2 linked regions of the Homo sapiens genome follow. Each later gene encodes a partner of the first gene's protein in a complex. Each region holds a gene or a part of one and is shown on either strand. Other genes may lie near its edges. The genes, in order: NUP62 and NUP93.

Evidence for each region.
Region 2: NUP62 (region 1) and NUP93 share a complex: the UniProt entries of both Homo sapiens proteins name them as parts of the p62 complex.

The regions. Positions count from the first base shown.
Region 1 is NC_000019.10:49,909,173-49,912,777, reverse strand, and holds part of NUP62 (nuclear pore glycoprotein p62), read left to right. Parts: intron 1-2,893; 5' UTR 2,894-2,970; coding exon 2,971-3,605. UniProt on the Homo sapiens protein: Essential component of the nuclear pore complex. The N-terminal is probably involved in nucleocytoplasmic transport.
Region 2 is NC_000016.10:56,736,629-56,740,128, forward strand, and holds part of NUP93 (nuclear pore complex protein Nup93), read left to right. Parts: intron 1-3,500. UniProt on the Homo sapiens protein: Plays a role in the nuclear pore complex (NPC) assembly and/or maintenance. May anchor nucleoporins, but not NUP153 and TPR, to the NPC. During renal development, regulates podocyte migration and proliferation through SMAD4 signaling.

The sequences.
Region 1 (3,605 bases):
CCTCCCATCTCAGCCTCCCAGGTAGCTGCGACTACAGGCGCCTGCCACCACGGCCAACTCATTTTTGTGTTTTTTGTGTAGAGACAGCATCTCGCTATGTTGGCCAGGCTGTTCTCGAGTTCCTGGGCTCAAGCGATCCCCCCACCTCAGCCTCCCAAAGTGCTGGGATTACAGGCGTGAGCCACCTCACCTGGCCATATCTAAACTGCGTGGATCAGGGCTGGATCAGTATGGGTTCACCATTGTGAATAGATCCCTGGCACCTGAGTATTGGAAACCAATGTGGCACTTAATAAATGGTGAACTGTTGGCCGGGCGCAGTGGCTCATGCCTGTAATCCCAACACTTTGGGAGGCCGAGGCAAGCGGATCACCTGAGGTCAGGAGTTCAAGACCAGCCTGGCCAACATGGAGAAACCCCATCTCTACTAAAAATACAAAAATTAGCCGGGCGTGGTGGCATGCGCCTGTAATCCCAGCTACTTGGAAGCTGAGGCGAGAGAATCGCTTGAACCCGGGAAGCGGAGGTTGCAGTGAGCCGAGATCATGCCATTCCACTCCAGCCTGGGCAACAGAGCGAGACTCCCGTCTCAAAAAAAAAAAAAAAAAAAAGGTGAACTGTTAAGCCAGACAAGTCCCCATAGAAGATTGTTTTCCTTGTAGTTTTTTCATAGTTGCAAAGAGCTTTTTATAAATGCTCTTCTTGGAAATTTTAGCTACAACTTATTAATAGCAAAAGCTTTTTTAAGCTGAGTTCTTGAGAACTGAGATGTGTAGGTGTAGCTGCTCAGATGCCTTTAGCTGCCAGTAACAACACACCGGCTTGAGGTGGCTCAGCAGTGAGGACTTTTGTTCTGTCCCACAACGGGAGGAATGGATGTAGGCCGGGCCAGGCCCCAGCAGTCCTGGGGGCTCAGGCACTTGCCGTGGCCTCTTGAAGAGACCTTTCTCAGAATCCCCCAGGAAAGCTTTATGAAAATGCCAGGGCCACAGCATCCCAGCCCCGGAGAGACTGGCTTAGTGGAGCTAACAGCCTTGTGTATTTTGAATGCTCCCAGTCAGTAGTGATGGACGCCCATTGAGATCTACTGGCTTAGACAAGGCAGAGCGTGTGCAGCTGGCCCTGGGGTCATCTCCCCAGGCTTGCTTGGCTGTGTGGAGAAGGAGGAGCAGACGAAACAAAACTTAGGGGCCTGTGAGGAAGCAGAAGGGTGCAGTGGAAGGGGTGGGGGTAGTGAGATAGGTTGCCTCTTACTCAAGCTGGAAGGGGATTTCCTGAGGACAGACACCAAGCAATTTAAAAACTGGCCTGGAGAGAGGGAAGAGGAAACAGACCTCGTGGGTGTTTCTCTGGGTCAGGCACTTGGCTTCTCAGTCTTGACTTTGATTATTCTTTTGTTTTTTTGAGACAGGGCCTCCCTCTTTCCATTTCCAGCTTTTAGAGCTGCTTCTGCCTTCCTTGGCTCCTGGCTTTCTCACATCTTCAGATTCCAAAGCGCATCACTCCAGTCTGCTCGTGTCACCACAAGCTTTCTTCCCTTCTCCAGTCAGTCAAATCCGTCTTCTAAGGATACTGCTGATCATCTTTAGGGCTCACGCCTGTAGTCCTGGCACTTTGAGAGGACAAAGAGGGAGGATCGCTTGAGCCCAGGAGTTGAAGACCAGGGCAACAGAGTGAGATCCCATTTCCACAAAAAATAAAAAAGATTATCCACGCATGGTGGCATGCACCTGTAGTCCTAGCTACTCTGGGAGGCTGAGGTGGGAGGATCACTTGGGTCCAGGAGGTTGAGGCTGCAGTGAGTTGTGATCATGTCACTGCATTCCAGCTAGTATGACAGAAAAAAACCCTTTCCCAAAAGAAAAAGAAACCACCCCTATTCAGCACTCCCTCTCACCCTTTCCTCACCAGGTAACCTTTGACCTTCCTGCTGATAGATGGCACCACTGGGAGATTTTTCAGTTAGACATTACCAAAATCAAGTCAGTTTGAACTGAATGGAAATACTGTGGCCCATGGGTCTTCTGGGGTGCTCTTTATCCCTCCCCCACCCCCACCCCCACCCATCTCTGGTGGGGCTCATGGTCTCCCGTGATGTCCCAGTGTCTGCAGATGGTTGAGAAGGTGTCCAAGGGAGGCCCAGGTGCAATCCTCCACACCACACCTACAGGTGAAGGAGGCAGCTGCCTTCCAAGCCTGGAGAAAACCCCAGGGGAGGCTCCGATTGCCTGGCTCAGGTCTCAGTTTATCCTTGAGCCAATCACTGCAGCCAGGGGCATCTGTGCTCTGAGCACATGGGTTTCAGACCCTCCCCTGAGTTAGGAGGAGGAGTTCCAGTGTCCTCTCCTGCTCTTAGAGAGTGCAGGTGTGGGCCTGGGGGGCCTTCAGCAACCCAGACCCTGCCATCCAGCCTGGGTTCCCGGCCCCATCTCTCTCTCTGAGGTCCAGAGAGGCCCTCAGGGTGGCAAGAGCTGATCCGCTCACACCCTGCTAGAGTCAGCCAGGGAACCTCACTGGGTCCCACGCTGGGAGCAGGTCCTACAGCTGTTCTTGTGTGTCCTAGTCCCGCTTGTGGCAGTGCCTCAAATCTGATCTCCTCAGGCTGAGGTGGGTCCAAGGTCCTGTTCTCCCGCCTCGTCCTCCACAGAGTGGGAGCTTTCCACTGGGCTGAACATGGCCACGCACGTCCCTAGCACCCCGGCTCCTCGTACCTGACCCCTGGGGCGTGCTTTTGTGCTTCTGGATCCTTCTCGATGTAGCAGAGCCTAGTTTAGGTTACACAGCATGCATCATTATCCCATCCCACCACCCTCCAAACCGACTGTGCCCAGTCATGCCACTGAGCTTGCCTTTCCAAAACTGCCATCTGACAATGTCACTTCCTCTGCTTTAGAAATCTTCCCAAGGCTGCAGACACCGACGGATTTGCTTTGGGAGCCAGAGTAGCTGCCGCCACCAGAGTCCGGAGCCATGAGCGGGTTTAATTTTGGAGGCACTGGGGCCCCTACAGGCGGGTTCACGTTTGGCACTGCAAAGACGGCAACAACCACACCTGCTACAGGGTTTTCTTTCTCCACCTCTGGCACTGGAGGGTTTAATTTTGGGGCTCCCTTCCAACCAGCCACAAGTACCCCTTCCACCGGCCTGTTCTCACTTGCCACCCAGACTCCGGCCACACAGACGACAGGCTTCACTTTTGGAACAGCGACTCTTGCTTCGGGGGGAACTGGATTTTCTTTGGGGATCGGTGCTTCAAAGCTCAACTTGAGCAACACAGCTGCCACCCCAGCCATGGCAAACCCCAGCGGCTTTGGGCTGGGCAGCAGCAACCTCACTAATGCCATATCGAGCACCGTCACCTCCAGCCAGGGCACAGCACCCACCGGCTTTGTGTTTGGCCCCTCCACCACCTCTGTGGCTCCAGCTACCACATCTGGAGGCTTCTCATTCACTGGTGGAAGCACGGCCCAACCCTCCGGTTTCAACATTGGCTCAGCAGGGAATTCAGCCCAGCCCACGGCACCTGCCACGTTGCCCTTCACTCCGGCCACGCCAGCAGCCACCACAGCAGGTGCCACACAGCCAGCTGCTCCCACACCCACAGC
Region 2 (3,500 bases), on another chromosome or scaffold:
GGAGTTGGGGGTGGATAACTGCATTTGGAGACATGGTGGGTGTGACAGTTATGTGCTTGAGAGGAGATGCACCAGTGGTGCCTGGAAACTCACGGTTGGAGTTTGAGTGCACGGGGGCAGGTGTGGATTTGACAGTCATTGCCATTGAGTCTTCAAGGGCAGTGGTGAGACACACACTGTGAAGTAGGGAATTTAGAGCAATATTAAAATTAACAAGTTATTAAAAATTATGTAAGATCACATATACTCATGGAAAAGAATTTGCCCTGACAAGGGAATCAAATGAAAAGTAGAAAAGTCTCCCAACTCTCACCTTGGTAATGCTAGGTTGTTTCTTGCTAAGTCAGTGCTTTGTTTCTTGCTATTCCTTCTAAAAAACTGTGAGTCAACCTTAAGTATACAGCTTAGGGAATTTTTACACATTTATTCACTTATGTGACCACTGTCCATATTGAAATATAAAGCATTTCTGGTACTTTGGTCAGCTCAGATCACCATAATAAAATATCAAAATATCTGTTGTTCTGGCTTAAACAGAAATTTATTTCCTCACAGTTTTGGAGGCTGGAAGTCCGAGATCAGGATGCCAGCATAGTTGGGTTCTGGTGAGGGCCCTCTTCCTCGCTGCTCAGTGTGTAGTCAAGACCTTTCTTTGATGTGTATGTGTGGGGAGAGGTAGGTGGAGGAAAGCAAGCTTTCTGGTGTGTCTAAGGGCACTTATCCCATCCTGAAGACCCCACCCACGTCACCTCATCTGAGTCTAATTACTTCCCAAAGACCCCATCTCCAAATAGCATCACATTGTGGGGTAGGGCTTCAACACAGGAATTCTGAGAGAATACAGTTCAGTCCTTAGTACCCGAAAAGCTCTGCTGTGCTTTCTCCCAATCAGCACTCCCCCTACACTCCCAAGGATAACCAGTATTCTGATCTTTAGTCCCATAGATTCATTTTTTCTGTTTTTAAGATCCATATAAATGGAGTCATACGGTGCTTTTTTTTTTTTCTTTTTGTATCTGGCTTCTTCAGCTCATTGTGATGTCTGTGAAATTCATCCATGTTCTGTGTAGTCTGTAGTTTCTTTTCCATTGCTGTGTGTGGTATACCAAGGTATGAATATACTGCCATAAAAAGCCCAAGTGGGATAATTCTGTAAATGCAATGGTTTTAAAATTATAATGGTAGGGACCCAGACTTTTGTTAGAATCCGCACACCTTCTGCCTCCCAAGTTGTGACAACCAAAAATGTCTCTAGCTATTGCTGAATGTCCCCTGTGGGGCAAAGTTGAGTAGCATTGGTTTAGAGAGAAGAGCCAGAGCCAGAGCCAAAGCCACAGGCCCTTTGGGGCCGACTTGGTGATCTGCCCCTGTTTATGCTAGTTGTAAGACAGAACTAGTATCATTCCTAAGGTTCTCTGTAGAGATAATTTCCATCACCACTAAAATGGGGCTGTTTCCCAGGAAGCATCAAGTAAGTTTAAAGACCGAATTAAAACATCTCACATTTGTAAATTCTTTAAGGTGAGCAGGCCCTTAGAGATCACCTGAGCAACCCCCTCATCCAGAGACGATCCAGCCCCAGGGTCAGAGGGCTGGCGTGGGATGGAGCCAAGCTGTAGTCCACAGCACTTTCTTCCCAGCTGGGCCTTCTGCTGGACAGCCAAGAGTTTATCAGAAAGTTACTATGTGGATAATTTATTTTTCTTTGTGATGCCAGGTTATTACTTCTCTTTGCTCATTGAAGAGGAAATAATACAAGTGATATTTTATGTATCAGGAAAGCTGATACTACCCATTCCTTATTGCAAACATTGAGTCACTGAGGGCAGTACTGCTACTAAATCACCCAAGTCTTTTTCTTCTGTCTAGGTTAATTTATTTTAGGTCTTTGTTTTCTCCAGAACTCTACCTTTTGAATAATGATAAGGTCTCTTTTACTTAGTCTCACAGGGCTGTAAAGAACTTTCCAACAATTTTTTTTTCCCTCTCCTCTCTCTTCCAGAGGCATCTGAAACAATGATGTCTGTCAAGATTTAATTTTTTTGGGGTTGTTGTTGTAATTGACAGCTGACAGATAATAGTAAAAAGTGGAATGATATTGTCATCTAGCTAGTTTATGTATTCAAAAGAGAGGAGAACAGAATCAGTATTAAACTTTTGATACCTTGGGTGGAGGTTTTTCTCATCAATCTTGGATGAGAAAAGAAAGAATCATTCACAAGAATGTTGAACACCATTCTTGTGTTTTACTCCTGTCATAGTCTGATTAATAAGGTTTGAGGGCAGAGTTTCTGCTTAAAATTAAATGCTAAATTTCTTTTTTTTTTTTTTTTGCACCGCCCTTAATCCATTTAATCCTGAGTGGACAACACAGCACATGTTTCAGAGAGCACAGGGTTGGGGGTAAGGTCACAGATCAACAGGATCCCAAGGCAGAGGAATTTTTCTTAGTGCAGAACAAAATGAAAAGTCTCCCATGTCTACTTCTTTCTACACAGACACGGCAACCATCCGATTTCTCAATCTTTTCCCCACCTTTCCCGCCTTTCTATTCCACAAAGCCGCCATTGTCATCCTGGCCCGTTCTCAATGAGCTGTTGGGCACACCTCCCAGACGGGGTGGTGGCCGGGCAGAGGGGCTCCTCACTTCCCAGTAGGGGCGGCCGGGCAGAGGCGCCCCTCACCTCCCGGACGGGGCGGCTGGCCGGGCAGGGGGGCTGACCCCCCCCACCTCCCTCCCGGACGGGGCGGCTGGCCGGGCGGGGGGCTGACCCCCCAACCTCCCTCCCGGACGGGGCGGCTGGCCGGGCAGAGGGGCTCCTCACTTCCCAGTAGGGGCGGCCGGGCAGAGGCACCCCTCACCTCCCGGACGGGGCGGCTGGCCGGGCGGGGGGGCTGACCCCCCCCCACCTCCCTCCCGGACGGGGCGGCTGGCCGGGCGGGGGGCTGACCCCCCCACCTCCCTCCCGGATGGGGCGGCTGGCCGGGCGGGGGGCCGACATCCCCACCTCCCTCCCGGACGGGGCGGCTGGCCGGGCGGAGGGCTGACCCCCCCACCTCCCTCCCGGACGGGGCGGCTGGCCGGGCGGGGGGCCGACCCCCCCACCTCCCTCCCGGACGGGGCGGCTGGCCGGGCAGAGGGGCTCCTCACTTCCCAGTAGGGGCGGCCGGGCAGAGGCGCCCCTCACCTCCCAGACGGGGCGGCTGGCCGGGCGGAGGGCTCACCCCCCGACCTCCCTCCCGGACGGGGCGGCTGGCCAGGCGGGGGGCTGACCCCCCCACCTCCCTCCCGGACGGGGCGGCTGGCCGGGCGGGGGGCCGACCCCCCCCACCTCCCTCCCGGACGGGGCGGCTGGCCGGGCAGAGGGGCTCCTCACTTCCCAGTAGGGGCGGCGGGGCAGAGGCGCCCCTCACCTCCCAGACGGGGCGGCTGGCCGGGCGGAGGGCTCACCCCCCCACCTCCCTCCCGGACGGGGCGGCTGGCCAGGCGGGGGGCTGAC